Linked DNA regions of Homo sapiens: all the other regions are linked to region 1. Evidence: fine-mapped expression QTL. A gene starts in region 1. Each other region holds a variant in brackets. All regions are shown on one strand. Distances are from middle to middle. Region 1 holds the start of RBM26 (RNA binding motif protein 26). Region 2 has its middle 110 kb from the start of RBM26. Region 3 overlaps RBM26 (RNA binding motif protein 26). Region 4 overlaps RBM26 (RNA binding motif protein 26).

The links. PIP is the estimated chance that this variant, and not a neighbour inherited with it, causes the effect.
Region 2: its variant is the best candidate, but not a certain one, in a credible set for the expression of RBM26 in whole blood (INTERVAL, PIP 0.89).
Region 3: its variant is the best candidate, but not a certain one, in a credible set for the expression of RBM26 in stomach (GTEx, PIP 0.70).
Region 4: its variant is the best candidate, but not a certain one, in a credible set for the expression of RBM26 in follicular helper T cells (Schmiedel 2018, PIP 0.64).

The regions. Positions count from the first base shown.
Region 1 is chr13:79,403,909-79,408,475 of GRCh38, forward strand. RBM26 (RNA binding motif protein 26) reads right to left here and starts at 2,347. Exons shown (of 22, transcript NM_001366735.2): 1 at 1,796-2,347. The coding sequence starts at 1,866. RBM26-AS1 (RBM26 antisense RNA 1) reads left to right here and starts at 2,401. Exons shown (of 7, transcript NR_038991.1): 1 at 2,401-2,569. RefSeq lists a silencer at 1,903-2,102 and enhancers at 2,012-3,003, 2,333-2,632.
Region 2 is chr13:79,295,471-79,300,037 of GRCh38, forward strand. No RefSeq gene overlaps it. Among named protein-coding and RNA genes, the nearest start is that of RBM26, 110 kb to the right of the region's middle. The variant G/A (reference allele first, on the strand shown) is at 2,253.
Region 3 is chr13:79,347,041-79,351,607 of GRCh38, forward strand. The region is part of intron 14 of RBM26 (RNA binding motif protein 26); the gene reads right to left. Among named protein-coding and RNA genes, the nearest start is that of RBM26, 57 kb to the right of the region's middle. The variant A/G (reference allele first, on the strand shown) is at 2,548.
Region 4 is chr13:79,363,919-79,368,485 of GRCh38, forward strand. RBM26 (RNA binding motif protein 26) reads right to left here. Exons shown (of 22, transcript NM_001366735.2): 7 at 2,715-2,954; 8 at 2,137-2,277; 9 at 1,660-1,800. Among named protein-coding and RNA genes, the nearest start is that of RBM26, 40 kb to the right of the region's middle. The variant G/A (reference allele first, on the strand shown) is at 2,476.

The DNA of each region.
Region 1 (4,567 bases):
TCATAAACTCCTCTCTTTTGCCATACACTTGTTTTTTAATGACATAAAGCCCAGTTTTCCTCCTGCCTCAGTACTAGGCCCTCTTCTCTTCCCTACCTACACACTTTTTCTATGAAATTTCCCACAATGTCATCGTCTTAAATACTATCTGCATGACTCCAGATTTCTCCAGTCCTGTCCTGAGTTTTAGACTCATATATTCAATGATCTGCTATCACACTTAGCTGTATCCCACAGACTTCATACTTACTGTATTTATTATTATCAAAACTAGCCATCCACTTTCCTTCTCCCCTTAACCTGTTCTCTGCCTTCTCTAATATCACCCATTCTGTTGCTTGGGTTATCTAAGGCACCACCCTTGATTTCCCTTTCCCTCATCTCCCGCATTTAATCCATTAATTTTACTTATGAAATGTATTTGGATCTGCCTGTCTCCACCATCACTCTAATGCAAACTAGCCACATCTCTGCCTACAACACACTTCTGAATAATCTTCTTACTTCCATTCTTGCCCTTTCAGTCTCTACAAAATAGGCAGAGTTAAAACAAAATTAAATCAGTCCTTGTCTGCTTTAAATCATCTCACGTCTTCCCATACATGATGTGGCCCCTACCTACTTGTCCAACTTGTTGCCTTTATATCCTCTCCCTCATCACAAGGCTCTTTCCAGCCACAGTGGCCTTTCTCTTCCTGAAACACACCACAATCACTTCTGCTACAGGGCCTTTCATTTGCTCTTCCTTTTGCAAGGAATGTTCTTTTCCAAGACTTTGACACACATGGTCCCTTCTCTTTAGATGTTACTCCAATGTCACCTTCTCTGAGAGTCCTTCCTTGACCAATGTGAAATAGCCCCCCTCATAATCACTTTTACATGATTCTCTATTATTACAATAGTCACAACTCTATTAATATCTGGATTTATTTATGTCTTGTCGATTTTAGAATTTAAAAGCTCTATCCCCAAAGCCTCCCGTAGTATACAGTAGGTACCTAATAACTTTATTAAATACGTGAATTTTCCCCATTGCATTATTGTAAATCAACCAATTCTGATTAAGCACTTTGGTCCATGTCATATTTTGTATTAACAAGTCGTCAAAACACTCCTTAAATTTTCCAATCTAAGACTATTTCAGCACTCTAACCGCAGCCCCCAACACAAAATCTATCTATAGCATCCCACTTAAAACTGCTAAATATTCCATATGGATGAAGATTCAATTTTCTTCCTCCTCTCCAAGCTAACGAACGCGTAGGCGGGAAAGGGGAATTTTACTGGCCACCTCAGCACCTGTTACATCTTCAATCAGTGAAGAGAGGTGCAGATGAGCCAGACAGCACATGGGAGACGTGGCCTTGCTTTCAGGAATTATATTTAGGTGAAACGTGAGTGATTTAAGCTAGAACTGCCCGAATCCCCAATAAAGGCCGTCTACTTCATTTAGAAAAACAAGGTAAAATAATCTGTAGGAAGTAAAATACAGTCGGTTTCACTAAAATAAACCGATTTTGAGGCCCCCGGAAAATATTGCGGGTGGGGGTTGGAGACGGTCTATATATAACGGGAAAACGAGAGCAGCTCAGCAATAAAATAAAGCTCGACTCAGGCTCTCGGGGGTATCCTGAATCTGGAAGCGAGGTGGACGAGGAGGAGAAGCCACAGAACCCTGGGACCTCCGTTCACCGCTTCGGCCTCCACCGCAGGCACTTGGGGAAACTGCACAGATCTCTGGGTCCGCCTATCTCCCACTGCCATCCCTGCAAAGAGATATCCCCCGGATACTCACATGGGCTCGAGAGTCTTGCTGAGCCAGGACTTGAGTGCCTCGAAGTTTTCAATGATCATTTTAGAAACCATCCACAGCGGCCCTAAGGCCCGTCACACTCCTCCGCCCGCCCAGGTCGCGGCCGCTACAGCCGCCGCTGCCCCCGCCCCCTCCTCCGCGCGCCGCCCGCGTGGGCCGCGGTGGGAGGCGCCGGTGGCAGGTTCCCGCGGGCCCCGGTCGGCGAACAGCTCTGCAAGGACCGCCGCAGGCCACAAGTGCACGGGGTGCCAGGAGCTCCCCGTCCCCGGCCCCCAGCCCGGGCTGAAACAGCAACGGTTTGCCCGGGCCCTCCCCCTTCCCTCTTCCCCAGCAAATCTACCCAGACCGGAAGCGCGACACGCGCTTAGACCCGAGCCTTCTCTCAGCCTCGGGACCAGGTGCTTGTTGGCTACGTCGAAAAGGCAAAAGTAAAGAAAGCGAAGGCGAAGGGCAGCTCAATGGGAACGATTCAGGGGGTCTTCCCGGCTCCCAGCACCCCCAAGAAGATGGCTGCCGGTAAATCTCGCGAGAATTGATGAAGTCTCGCGGTGGCTCCCGGAGCCTGCTGGGAGAGACGTAAGGTCGGCGGAGAATGCGCGGGTCGAGTGCTGTAGTTCGATTTTTGCGTGTGTGCGTTGCTTGCGGCCTTTGTGCCTTTTTATTCTTTGCTTACCTTTATGATATAAAGACCTTATTTCTTACAAGGAGGAAAAGACCGCTGACTTCAGAAACAGCGGGAACCCCAGCTCGTCCCCGGTAAGACGGCCGTGGCCTGTCAGCTGGAACGGTCCTGCCGGATGGATCGCTCTTTGAGAGCGTACACTCCCGCGTGCGCGACACCAGGCGGCCCGTAGGTTCCAGGTGCCGAGCACACTACCTCCTCAGTTTACCTAAGTGCCCTACCAGTATCATATTCTGTGTATGCTGTGATGTGAACGAGGTTTGTAAACACAGGCTGGTCTAATGGAGCCCAATGAGACCGCCAGAGGATTAGTGTCTTGTCCAACAGTACTTGACTTGCTGGTAGAGCCCTAATGACTGAGGGCTGCCCACAAGGGAAAGGTGAGAGAACCTTCACGTCTCTCAGGTAGTTTCCAGCCTGCACTTTCCCCCAGCTAAAGATAAGTTTTGTTATTTTTAAAATTCTCTTTATTTAGAGCAAATTCAGCCCTATCTCAGATCGGGAAATTATATAGTATCAAAAGAGAGAGTCTTCATATTAGCAACCCAAATAAATAAACTATTTTCCTGGGTGATCAAATAAGTTTGATTCCTGCTTGAGTTCTATTTAGATACTAGGTGGAATTTTACAAAGGGTCTACGTTCCATGAACTGTAATGGAATGAAAATATTCACAATCTAAAGACATTTTCAGTAAGTAGATCAATAAAAGCTCTTTATGAGAGACACCGATAGGCTAAATTGTTCTTAGGAACTCTTGAGTTTATAATTTGCTAGAGTGAAGTGTCTTTAAGGATTAGGTGGAAAGATTATGAACTACAAAGCAAGACATTTGTTTTAAAATACAGCATATAGAGTAGAATACAAATTAGAATCCAGCTACTGAATAACCAGGGTGTTGATTAAAGTGATTTAGCTGAGTGAAATAAACCAGACATGAAAGGACAAATATTATGATTCCACTTACATTAAGTACCTAGAGTAGTCAAAACTCCTAGAGACAGAAGGTGGAATGGTAGCAAGAGCAGGGGTGGAGAGGGTGCCCAGGAGAAGGGGAAATGAGGAGTTATATTTCAGTGGATAATAGAGTTTCAGTTTAGGATGATTTAGATTCTGGAGATGAGTGGTGTTGTGTGGGTTGCACAATATGAATGTACTTAATGCAGTGGACCATATACTTAATGAAAACGGTAGGTTTTATATGTATTTTACAATAAAAATTGTTTATAAATTTAATACTGCCGAAAGTTAAAATTATATTTGTTTAGTCTGTTTGTTGTAGCCTTGCCACAGGCTGACGCCACCAATATTTTCAACCTTATCACCAGCTACTCCATTACTCTGGCTCTCCACTTCAGCCTTCCAAAGCTTCTATCAAATACTGTATACCCCAGATAAACTGATTTGCTCACCCTCCCTTTCTCCAAACATTTGTTCACTTTATTTTCCACAGAGAACGCTTCTACTTCTTTCCCTGACTGCTCAAACTTTGCCCATCCATCTCTCATACCACTGTCACTGTCTTATTTAAAGTCTTTTATTCTTCCTAAATAATAGCAAAAGCCTTTTAATATCTTTGCCTTTTATGCTGACCTCCATCTCAGTTCATCTTCAGTTGCCCTCATCATCATTGCCTTTAATAGCAGTAATTCTAAAATTTTGATCTAATCATGTCACTTTCTTGCTTAAAATCTTCAACTTCCACATTATCTTTAGAATAAAACACATTATTTAACATCCTATAAAGGGACTTTCATAAATCAGACACCTTCCTTTTTGCCTAGAAACTCCTTTCAGTCTTTGCTCCAGCCATCCTAAACTATTTTGAGTTCCTTAAAATAAGTTGTTCCATGAAAAGGCCCTTTATGCAAAGTGCCCCCCAAACATCAAAGGAGAAATCAAATGAACAAAGCAGACAAATCCAGTTTGGTCAGTAAAGAGTGTTTTGTTGGGGGTAACTTACAGACAGAAGCATGGTCTTCAGTGGCAGCAAGACAGGTAGATGTCTGCCCTTTTACTCCCCAGACCAGTACTTACATGCCATAAGGAAAGGGTGTACGTACTCTATAGAGA
Region 2 (4,567 bases), 110 kb before region 1:
CCTCTCCTTAACTTCTAAGCTGTTGTAACTAACATCGCATTAACCATTTTTGTAAAATGTTACATGCGTTTGTAATTGGGAGACAAGAAAACTACACAACTACATGCTTTGCTGTATGTGCACGAACTGAATAAAAGATGCACAGTAACCAATCACTGACAGACTTTGAAAGAAGCAACATGACTGTTCAGTGATCAAGATGCAGGTCTCTTATTTACACAGTGATTTGCAGATTAAAGAGCTAATAATGAAGTTTGTACTTTATACAATTAACCACAGTTGATATACTATGGTAACTGATTTTTAATCATGAAGGACTGGTGTTATTTACGAAAACTGTGGTAACTGAAATTCGTGCACATGAGAAGCATCTACAGCAAGGATCTCCCATAGTTGTTTGTTAAGTCTCAACTCTTTGGGGGTTCATAACTTTATTCCTTTTGAATTATAACTCATCTTCTTCAATAAATGTACCTCCAAACAGACTTGACTGGTCTTTTTCCTTTTAGAAACAAATTCATGGTGAAGTTTTATGAGTAATAAAAGCAATCTGTTCCCTTCTATTCTTTTTCCTCATGATATTTACACATTTCCTTGTGTTCACACACTAGATATGTGAGTCATACTGCATCATGCGCATTGGCCCATGGGCACGGTGGGCTGTGCTACTCAGCTGCCTTCTGTGTAAGTACATACAAAGATTAGATGAGAGTGGGCACCTCATGCATATGGATTATAGTTGTTTCAAACCTCTTTTGCCATTCTTCAAAATTTCCTGCCTTAGAATTCTGCATCCATGGCTTTTGCCAGTTGACATTGCTTTATGAGAGTAGGCAGAGTGTATGTGGCTTGGCTGATGGATTATGGGTGGATGTGACATGTGCCAGACTGAGGCCTCCTGAGATATGACATGTGTCTAGTCATCCTCTCATTCTACAACTACATGCAGGAAAGGAGAATGCCCAAGACTCTGCTGCTCCTCCTGCCTGAGCCCCAGTGTGAACACACGTGGGACAGAAGTAAAGCAAGCCCCACAGGCTTGGAGCAAATCTTCTCAGTTGACCCTAGGGTAGATCAGCTGAACTGCAGTTAACCTGCAGATGTGCAGAATGGAAGCTTATTGTAAGCCACTGAGTTGTTGAATGTTTCATTATGCTTTTTTTTTTTTTTTTTGGCAATAGCTGATGAATACAGGGCAACAGTATGCGTGAAGCTAATTAGAAAATCCCCCCAAAAGTTATACTGAAGAACACAAAGACTTTCCAGCTGGTAGAGAGAGGAAATGCAGTAAAGACACAGACAAAGCTGAGGTGCTATGGAAAAAGAGACACAGAGTGGTTGCTTTTCACCTGGAATAAGTTTGGACTTCCCAGCCTTTTTTGCTTGCAGCAGCCTGAATTCTCTGAAACATTAAAGAGCTCACTGTCTCTATTCCACAGCCTTCATGCCTGTGAAGGTTGGATCTCCAGAGTATATTAGGAGTAGTTAGAGTGGAAATGGAGAAATGTTGAGACTTTCCACAGGAGTCCCTATATCTAAATCTAACTAGGCCTGAAGGTAAATTCAATTTACCGTTTCAAATGAGGCCCTAGGAGTGGATGGTGGAACTACGCAGCATCCACTTTCATTAGAACTGTCTGGGCCTTTCCTTTTCACCAAGACATAGAGCTCATAGGAGAAGGTGAGCCTTTTATGAAAATTACTAATCCATTGAATTATTACCATCTCTCAAGTAAATCTCTAACCTACATAATCTCATTTGATTTTTCTCAAAGCTCAGTGAAAAAGGTGCTATTTTTAGCTGCATTTTACATATGAGGAGACTAAAATATATATCCTAAGTCATTTGCTTAAGGCCACACAGTTAGTAAACCCGGATGCTTAACGTCTCTACTCTAGCCATATTATGCTACTTGTTTTTAGGAAGTAGTGGTAGAAACCAACTCCTGCCCTAGAAAGATTTTCATTATCCTAGGCAAGAAGATACAGTCCTTGAAATAAACAAACAATTCAGAGCAAAGAAAAAAATACTTTTTTTGTACTTTACTTATAGCAAACATGGACAAAATGCATTTCTTCCATGCATCAGGTGTTTTTATTCTCTGCTGGGCTTTGTTATCTCATCTTTCTCCCCTGGGATTCTTTCTCTCCCCAGTACTCCTTTCTATACCTTTAGTATTCACCATTTCCCTTCTCCCAATCCCTCAAAAAATCCAGAGCAGCTTAATTCATTTATTTTACAAATATTATGC[G/A]TGCTTATTATGGGCAAGTCATTTTAATTTTGTAATGGACAATTATAACATTTCAGTTGTGTTAGTATTTCTGGGGATTGGTTGCCAATGGCAATCAACACACTCCAGTACTTGATACCTGCCCCAGTTCCAGTCAAAAGAACTTTCTCTCAAAACTGACTTAAAAACACAGTCCAGTTAGTTCCATGCATTTCTGCCAGCCATACCATGCTTGAGTAGTCCTTGAACCATCAGGCCTTGAGCACCATATTCTTGCACACTCTCATTACTGTTTTCACAACCTCTTTTCTCCATCCCTTCCCATGGTGCATCCTGAAATCTCTGTCCATTATAAACAAATTCCTTTACATTTTTAACCTCTTCCTTTCCCCTGTCTCTTTTCTTTCAGTCTATAAAACATGTTCATGAAGTTCCCTCAGTCTTTGGTAGCCACCATTCCAAAAAGAAATAAACACTCCTTTACCTAGCAAAGTCTAAGCTACCATACTAAATTTTGCCTTCTCTCCACTGTTCACGTTGAGTTCCCTACATTCAGTCTCCACTTAACTTCCCAGTTTCTCTTCATTCTACATCAGTCTGTCTTCTCCTCCCATGAAACTGCATATGGATTTATGAGTTGCTAGATCCTCTCCATCTTGATCTTATTTGACTTCTTACTTGATCAAGCTCTGGCTTGTGAACTTCTCTCTTTTCTTGGCTTTTGTGACACCACCTCACTTAGCTCTTCTTTTCTTCTAGCAATTTTTTCATCTGCTTCATGTGTACCTTCTCCTCTAGGTCCTGTAAATATTGAGGGTTCATCGGGATTCTATCCTTAGCCTTCCCTCTTCACGTGCTGCATGTGCTCTCTGAGGAATCTCTTTCATATATGTGGTTCTCACACCTATGTCTGCAGCCTAAATGTCTCTTCTGTGCTTCAGATAGCAGATATCTGCCTACAGGATATTTCCACTTTGATATTCCACAAGGTTAAAATGTCAAAAACAAATTCAACTCCTTCTCTTGTCCTATAAACCTGTTCCCAACCCCACATGTTCAATCTCAGTGTATCACACAGCCATCAACTTTGTTGCTCAGCCCAGAGACTTGGAGTCTCCTAACTGTCCCTTTTATGCCCAATGTTCTCCATGCTTCCAATTTATCCTCCTCACCATTATGAAAGAGATCATTAAAAACTGCAAATCTAATCATTTTACTATTCCCCATCCTCATCCCTGCCCTTCTTGTGTCCCAGCCTCTTTCTCTCAAACTTTCAGACATTTAGGTGGCTCCCCAGCACCTCACAATGAAGTTCAAAGTTCTTACCATGCTCTGAACTTTGCTATTTAGACTCCTGTCCTAATTTCTCCTATTTTCCTTAAAATCCTTTACATTTTAATCACTTCATGATCCTTGCCACTCCTCTGAGTACTTATTTTCATGAATTGATAGTCAGGGAACTTTAAAAATATAAGATATTAGGAAAGAGAGTGGATAAAGCAGAAAAGAAGAATTATGGAGGGATGGCAAGATGTTTGTCTACCCACTAGCTGCAGAAGTTTAGGTAGAAAATAGGAGCTGTGTTCAAAAGACCGTATCTGTCAGCCATATCATGCTTGAGCTCTGAACAGATGCTGTACACTGGGTCACAGCAACAAAGACTGACAGAGTTGGGATGGGTCATTGACTTCTTCAGACCACAGCACAGCCCTGGTGCCCCGAAGGTATAGGGTAGAGGTAGGGGGGATAATGGGGGCTGAGTAACCCCAGCACAGCAGTGCTTTCACAGAGGCCACTATGATTGGAGTGAAGACCATGGTGAAGGTTCCTGATGAGTTTGGAATGGAAGAACATGAGGGGAGTAGTTGAGACCAGATATTCTAGAGGATTACCAGGTATAACTGGGAAAGATGGCGAAAGAGGGGTGATATTCAGGAGTTATGCAGGTGGGGACTAGGCAGCAAATTACATGTCTACTGGGTTGCAAGGAAAACTGAAGACATCTGATGGGGACTCCCTTAATTCCACTGCCAAACCTAAAAGCGGAATGAACTTTTTTTCCCCTCACCTTGATTGTTTCTACTTCTGTCTAAGGGCAGTTCCTATAATTGTGCTTCAGATTTTTTCTCATCCGATCTTTTTGGCTGCCTTAAACTATTATTATTGCTCACTCTGTCTTGAGACTCCTTTCTGTAGAGATTTAAACATAATTCCCTGGCTTCCCTTTATCCCCCCTGACTTGCAAACTACAATCCTATCTCTCTTCCACCCTTAAAAAATCTTCTGAAAAAACTTGTCTATACTCTCTCTCTATGTCCTTACCTTCCTTTGACTCC
Region 3 (4,567 bases), 57 kb before region 1:
CAAGTATTTCTCCAGTTTCAGTGAGAATACTCCTTTTCAAATCATTTTTGACATGTAGTATCAGACTAAGGAGTGCTGGTTCAAAGTGAATAAAAGTATCTGACAATGATAAGACTCCTTTATTCCTAGAAGTATTCCCATTTCCTTTTTTATCCAGGAACATCCTTCTGTAAAACTAGAACATCCACGAATGTGACTCACTAAGGCTACAACTCAGTGACTGTAAGACAAACTATCATTTATGTACCCCTACTAAAGAAAAAAAGGCTGCCAATCATAACCTGTGTCTAACAATTATAAGACACAGCCCAACGTCAGAGGTGTTAAAATGTAAAAATGTGACTTATAAACAATGAACTATATTGTTCACTATTTGAATCTATCTGGTTCTGGAGATTAGACAGTTTGGATAGTAAGAGACACATGTATTTTCAAAAGAAGAAAATCTATTAAAACTGAAATTAGTGGAGGGAAGTAACGAGCCCAACAGAAAAGAAGATACTCCAATTCCTAAGAACAGAGACAGTGACTTCTCCAAACAACCACATTTCTATATTCCAAATGCATTTCTATATGTGCTATAATTTTTACATATTTACTTCTATACATCTTACTACACTTACTTAATCCCAACTGTGTGAATTATTTTGAATTTTCTATATCTACAACCATGTCATCTGCAAGTAAACAGTTTTATTTCCAATCTTTATATGGTTTATTCTATTTTCCTTCCTTAGTGCACCCATGAGTCTCTCCAGTACAATACTAAAAAAAATAAAAGTGATGCAAATGGACATCCTTGTCTTTCCCAACCTCAAGGAAAAACAGTCAATATTTCACAATTGAATATTATGTTAGCTGTAGTTTTTTTTCTTTTATTGCAGATTTCCTTCATCAAATTAAAACAGTTTTTCTCTATTCCTCCTTTGCAGAGTGTTTAATGTAACTAAGTAACAGAACACTTTCTCTACTGAGCTAATCATCTAGAGTTTTTTCCTCCCTCATTCTACTAACATCAATTAAACTGATTTTTCCAATGGTAAATCAACCTTGAATTTCTGGAATAAATACTACCTGGCCATGAATGATTATGTATTTCATGTATCACTGGACATTTGCTAATATTTTCTCTAGGATATTTGTGTCTATGTTCATGACAGATGTTGGTCTGTAATTTTCCTTTCTTATAGTATATTGTCAGGTTTGGTATGCTGAACTCAGAAAATAAGTTGAAAAGTATCATGTGCTGTGTTGTTAAAATGTATAGCACTAATACCTCTTATTTTCCCTAAAGAGAGGGAGGTTACAATCCATTAACACCTCCTTATTTTATTTCCTATGTAAAATAATACCAGCCACAATAACTATAAGTAATCGTAAAGAAAGAGAAAAACAGCTGTTTTTCATAGATAAGAATGGAAGGGAAAAAGTATTTTGTAAAATTAAGTTATCCGAGTATGATTTTTCAATAACCAATGCCTAAGTAGAAATTAAATACAAATATAGTTATGATGTCTAGCAGCCACACTCACAATAAATAGCTCCAACAGGTTTTTAAAGCAGAAATACATTGGTTTAATGCAATCAAAAGACAGTATGAGGAGCTATGTGTAGGAAACGTATTAATACAGTTACTGTATGGTCAGTTTTCATAGTAAGTAGTCACCTGTTCAGTAAATCTGAATGTTCGTTTATGATATTCACTTAAAGCAGCACACAGATGTGCGTTCTGTATCAAACCTGAGAATTCTGGTGAGAAGAATGGGATTTTGGTTTAAAGTTAAGTTTATACATACTTTTAGATATTAATCGTTTTTAAATTTCAAGAACACAAAGTATGTTTTAATGCACTGATCTACCTTATCTTTTTTGTAGCTTTCAAAATTTTATTCTTTTAATTGACAAAAACTGTATAGAGATGTCCCTTAACTTATGATGGGGCTATATCCATTGTAAGCTGAAATACCATTTAAGTTGAAAATACATTTTCAACTTGTAAGTAATAAATGCATCATCAAATTGAAAAACTGTTAGTCAAGTCACCGTAAGTTGATGACTGTCTGTGTATTTATCATGTACAACATGCTGTTTGAAATATATACACTGTAAAATGGCTAAGTCAAGCTAATTAACATTTGTATTACGTCACTTTTTTTTGTGGTGAGCTGCTTTCTTGGCAATTTTCAAGAATGCAACACATTGTTATTAACTATAGTCACCACGTTGTACTATAGATATCTTTAATTTATTTCTTCTATCTAACTGAAGTTTTATATCTTTTGACCAACATTTCCCAATCCCCTGTCCTCAGCCACTGGTAACCACCATTCTACTCTCTGCTTCTATGAGTTCAACTTTTTAAGATTCCACATATAAGTGAAATAGACAAAGGGATTAAAAGAAACAAAGATTAAAAAACTTGCAGAGAAATATTTTAACAAACATCAAAGTAAAAAATATGTACAGCTAGTAATGAATTTTTGCTACACAAATAGCTTAGTTACTACAAAGTTCAGCAAAGCTAATACACTCAAATAAATTAATTTC[A/G]TATTTTCCTGAAAAAAAAATGCAGGTAATAATCCTGAGAGGCCACTGAATTAAAAAATAAAAATTAAAAATAGTCAATAACAGTTAAGAAAAAAAAACTATGATAAATCCCACTCTTTTTTTTTTTTTTGAGACAGAGTCTAGCTCTGCCACCCAGGCTGGGGTGCAGTGGCGCCATCTCGGCTCATTGCAACCTCCACCTCCCTGGTTCAAGTGATTCTCCTGCCAGCCTCCCAAGTAGCTGGGATTACAGGCGCCCGCCACGAGGCCCAGCTAATTTTTGTATTTTTAGAAGAGACAGGGTTTCACTGTATTGGCCAGGCTGGTCTCGAACTCCTGACCTCGTGATCTGCCTACCTCGGCCTCCCAAAGTGCTGGGATTACAAGCGTGAGCCATGCGCCCAGCCAAATCCCTCTAAATCTTTTAACTAGCAAAGTTACACAACAAATTCAAATTTCAAAAATCCAAGGAAACATATTAAGATTTGCTTAGCATCTACACAATGGCACCTGCTAAATCAACAGGTGAAGTTTCTCTATAACATGCAATATTCTTTTAATTATACCACACAATTTTCCTTTTAAAAGTTCCATGGTATAGATGTTAATATATCATCATGCAGAGACCAAGATATATTTTTACATTGCAAAAACCACAAGAACAATAACATCCTGTATCATAAATCTGATATTTAAAGCTGATATGATAAAGAAGATTAAATATTCCACTGGTTACGCAGTTTGCCTTCTTAGAATTTAGAAGGGATTCAGCAAGATAATTTGAACGGTCTTAAGTCTGTTTTAAAAAACTAACCAGGACAGTATACACAGATGTAGCCCTTTATTCTTCATGAATTTCTTTAGTAAGCAGAGGCACTCAAACATAATTTATCAAATCTATTCACATAATAACTAAATACCTCTTGCAATATCTTCATATTTACCAGCAGCAATTACGTTTTAACTTTCCTCTCTTCTAGCCTCCTCACGAAAATGGGGTCTCAGGATAAAGAATAATCACTAAAGGTTTTACTGTGTGTTGTTGATAGGGAAGGTATAAAATGTTACATTTGTGTATTTATTTAGTTTAATAATGACATAGGATACTGTATAGATACAAGCTTTGGGTTTTCCCCTGCCTTCATTTTTTTTAAAAAAAGAATCTTTCAACTAATATTTGATGATGGGGAACATTCTTCTATTCTTTCTAAGACTTCTTTGAATCACTGCCCTGTAAGTATTTTGGACCCAAACCCCCTAAGGATTAGGGGAACAGAAACAACAAAAATAAGCAAAAATAAAATGTTTCTCTGTAAAGACACTCACTGAAGATGAATAAAAGTTACATACTTACTGTTTTCCTTAATAGGCTGTTTACGGTATTTATCAAAAATATTTTTCCCCATAAATAGCTTGCTACCATAAATGATTTTTTTCCCATAAAAATTCAGTTAGTAGTTTATTGCATTAGCATAATATATGGGTATATATATTAGTCTATGCATTAGTAAAGTTATATTATCAACTACAAATTTGTACTCACAATACACTGCAAAAATTTTATAAAAGCTATGAGTACACACTTCAATTTCAAAAGTCCAAATCTGACATTACAGACTCCAAATATAACTGAGCATTTTAGATGTCTCTAGAATTTCTCAGTAGTACACTAAGTACAGCTGAACTTAGTGTTAAATTTTATTTTACATTTAATTGACAGAACTGTACATATTTATGGGGTACAGTGTGATGTTTTGATACATATATACATTATGTAATAATCAAAATCTATCACCTCAAACACTTCCAGTGTTTCTTTTTTCTGAAATACTTATTTTCAACGAGGATAAACCTAATCCAAGTAAGTATTTGATACTGCTAAATTTAGTAGCACAGACTAAGCAGCACAGAAATTCCAAGGAGGAGGTGGGGATAACAGAAAAATCTGGAGGTTTCATGGGAGATGTTAGAGAGACTTTCACTCTTTAAATAATGACTGGAATTTAGTTGGGGCGGCGGG
Region 4 (4,567 bases), 40 kb before region 1:
CCCAGTAAAAGCAAGGAATATTGGTATGAGGAAAACAAACTACATGCTAAATAGTTATCCAAAGAAGAAAAGAGGGTTTCTGTGAACTAGCCAGGTGGGAGACAGGTTCAGGATATAGGTAAACATCACACAACAGTTAAAATCTTAAGTGGCCACTTTTCAATTACAAGGAATCCATATATCCCTCACATACAAGCTGTTAAAAAAAATCTTTTTTCTATTGTTGTTAATAATAGCTATTGAAATTCCTCAAAGAGAATTTAAGAGGAATGGGTATCCACATTAAATGTTGTCCTATGATCTAAAAGAGGATATAAATCTGAATTAAAACATTCCTTACACCTTCATTACAAAAAGTCCTTTAAACATTCAAGGAAGATGCTCAGAATCTGATAGCTAGCTTCCAATGAATAAAAGAAAAAACACAAAGTATATGTAAGTAATCACACATTTACCAAACTCCATTAGGCACTGTTACTTACTAACTAAGACTTTTATTCACAACTGACGAAGCATGATTTTTTAATTCTGACTAGGTAAGACAAGAAAAGACTGGAAAGAAAATGGGATTTAAAACTTAATTGAGGTGGTTAGGGAAAAAGATATATTTTTTGTTAGCCCAGGAAATATTTTCCATTATGTCTGACAATCCTTCATTTCCCTATATCAAATGTGATCTGTAGCAAATACTGTATTTTCCAAATTAATGTGAACTTTCTCCCTCTGAATCTTATTAGTTTACATTTACATCTCTAGTGTAGCACTCTAGATGTAGGGCACTCTAGATGTAGGGCACTTTGCTGCCCTAGCTTGTGACTATGTCAACCCAAATTGTACCTTTTAGAAATTTTATCCAAAAGTCTGTCTCCTCTAAGAAAATTTTAAGAGTCATTTCTTAACACATGATATCCTTTGCTTAAAAATATACGCAAACTAATATCAAATTTTAACAGGTGAAGAGTCAGCAAAAATAAATACCAAGCACTATTTGATTTTTCAAACTAGGAATAAACTTATCTTTAGGAATTAAAGCGTTACTCTCAAGATTACAAATGATACAAATTACTAAAAAAAAAAAGGCTACCCAAGAAAATGTGCTTCTTTAAGGAAATTCCTTTCCTTCTTGGACAGTGTAATAATTGTATAATAAAGTGTCACCTCTACCACAAATACAGAATTACACAGTATATTTTCTCCAACGGGGGAACGAAGGATACAGGGAACAAACAAAATCGCCATCCCAGCCAGTCACGGGGGCTCAAGCCTATAATCCCAGCACTTTGGGAAGCCAAGGCGGGCGGATCACTTGAGGTCAGAGAAGTTCAAGACCAGCCTGGCCAATACGGTGAAATCCCATCTCTACTAAAAATACAAAAACTAGCTGGGCATGGTGGCAGGCACTTGTGATCCCAGTTACTCAGGAGGCTGAGGCAGGAAAATCACTTAAAGGGGAGGCAAAGGTTAGAGTGAGCTGAGATCACGCTACTGCACTCCAGCCTAGGCCACAGAGTGAGACTCTGTCTCCAAAAATAAAATGAAATAAAATAAATCACCATTCCTTATCCAACCCCAATAAAGGCAAGACCAACTGTTCTTTATAAATGTTTTCCCACTGTTTATATTATGAAAATGACAGGAAGGAAAGATTAATTATAGTACCTCTGGGTGGCAAATCCATATCCCCTGATGTTAGTCCTATCAAGTTGGGCCTTTGTGCATGCACTCTGTGTCTATACATAGGTCTGGAAGTGTTTGTTATGCTTGGGGCTTCAGGATTGTAGCCATCTGTGTCATATGTATCTGGTAATACAAAAACTGTAATTAAAAAACAATTATAAAACTCCACTTGGTAATTTTTTAATATTGATAAGAGAAAAAGTAAACAATATAACATATTAACATATAACATGCTCTATATGTATCAAAAAGAAAATAACTTTATTTAAAAAAGTTATTAAAAAGAAAATGTTTTTTTGAAAACATTCAAAACTGAGGGCTTATTTAATGTTCATTCACCACGGCTACATAATTTTAGTGAGAAAAGTAGTCCTCACAGAGCAATTCTCTCTAGACATTTTAAAATTCTTCATCTAAAACTGTGTTACATTACGAATATAAAAAGGGCCAAAACTGCACCTGCAGTAAAAAGAGAGGGTGGAGCAGGAGGAGGCTGGTGATGAATGCCAGTTGTTACTACAGTAGGAACAGAACTGGTTGCAGAGTTTGGAGGAGCATCCATGCCAGATGGCTGCAAAGGAGGAAGTGGAGGTGGTGGTCCTGTCAAAACCAAAGAATAAGAAATATCATCTGAAAGCAAACAAATAAAACAAGTTATTGCACATCCGAACATAATCTTCTCATTTATCAAACTATAATATCTACAAACACCAAGCCCTTACAACTGAATTAGATATCCAGGGTAAAATATCCTTTTAATACATTCCAAAGCAGGTTTGCCTTAAGCTATGAAGGCCT[G/A]CAGGCAGCTGGGTTTTACCAGTGATATACTTAATTCACAGGGTCACTCCAAACCATAGTAACTGGCTTGGCACAGGCTACAAAGTGGAGGTGTATTCCAAATGGAAGTATACTGCTATTAATTTCTATCAGGCATTTTTGGGATTCCTTTAGATACTTTTAATTTAAGAATCTATTAAGTTTTAAAAATAGACTAAGAATGGCTAGATAAATACAGGGAAACAAACAGATTTACTTACCTGTAACAGGTGGGAGACTGGGTGGCAATGGACCTGGCGGTGGTACTGGGGGCCTGAGATTCACAGGTGGGGGTGTAAGAATTGGTGGAGGTGGGGGGAGTCCAGGAGGAGGTGGTCCTTCAACAACAGGAGGCTGTGCTGGGAAAGGCAGCATACCAGGAAGATTCACATCTTCTACAACTACTGGATCACTTCCATGATCAAAAGGACACATGTCTCCTCTCATACAAAAACCCTTTTCTATGAGGAAGGAATAGTTAGAAACAAATGTCAAAAGCACTGGAAATATATATTTTCTCTAAGTTAGCAAAAGTAAAATATTTAAAAATATGAATATTTTTAATATTGGACAAAAGTATAATTAACCATTTCCCAAGAGCTACCTGATCTTCTCCAGTAATATAAATACTTGTAAAGTGATAGTATATTTAACATACTGATATAGTTAGGATGTTTATCCTCTCCAAATCTCATGTTGAAATGTGACAATCTGGCTGGACGTGGTGGCTCAGGCCTGTAATCCCAGCACTTTGGGAGGCTGAGGCAGGTGGATCACCCGAGGTCAGGAGTTCGAGACCAGCCTGACGAACATGGTGAAACCCCATCTCTACTAAAAATACAAAGATTAGCTGGACGTGGTGGCTGGCGCCCATAAGCCCAGCTATTAGGGAGGCTGAGGCAGGAGAATCGCTAGAACCCGGGAGGCAGTGGTTGCACTGAGCAGAGACTGTGTCATTGCACTCCAGCCTGGGGTATAGGGGGAGACTCCATCTCAAAAAAAAAAAAAAAAAAAAAAAAAAGAAGAAGAAGAGGCAAAAGAGAGAAATGTGACAAACGATGTTGGAGGTGGGGCCTGGTAGGAGGTGTTAGGGTCATGGGGGTAGATCCTTCATGAATAGCTTGGTGCCCTCCCAAGGTAACAAGTGAGTTCGCCCTCTATTAGTTCACAGGAGCTGGTTGTTTAAAAGAGCATGGCACCTCCCCCACCACCAACCCCACTCTTGCTCCCTTTTAGTTGCTCTCCCTTCGCCTTCTACCATGATTGTAAACTTCCTGAGGCCTTCACCAGATGCAGATGCTGGCACTACACTTTTTGTACAGTCTGCAGAACCATGAGCCAAAGACACCTCTTTTCTTTATAAATTTCCCAGGCTCAGGCATTACTTTAGAGCAATGTTAAACTAACGTATACATACTAAAAAAACAAAAAAAACACACAAATGAAAATAACCTAACGAGATGAGACTTAAATATAATTTTTGTCATATTTTTGTCTTTAGAAATGTCCTTCATTTAAATCTCTTAAAACTAAAAAAAATTGCAATGATGGCTTTAATACTACTTATAAATCTTTTACGGTAAATCCTTAAAAGTCTTCAATTCTTTTTATTTTTTTATTTTTATTTTTTTTGAGACGGAGTCTCGCTCTGTCACCCGGGCTAGAGTGCAGTGGTGCGATCTTGGCTTACTGCAAGCTCCACCTCCCGGTTTCACGCCTTCTCCTGCCTCAGCCTCCCGAGTAGCTGGGACTACAGGCGCCAGCCACCACGCCCAGCTAATTTGTTGTATTTTTAGTAGAGACGGGGTTGCATACCATGTTAGCCAGGATGGTCTAGATCTCCTGACCTCATGATCCACCCACCTCAACCTCCTAAAGTGCTGGGATTACAGGCGTGAGCCGCTGCGCCCAGCCAAAAGTCTTTAATTCTTTAATAAAATTCTTACAAAGGTGACATTTACATTTCTAGATACATTTCTATTTACAGTCCAATAATCACTCATTCTAAAGAAATGAGTTTTGTCAATAATGTTTCAGTAGCAGATTCCCTGATAAAAACTCAGTAGATATTTAC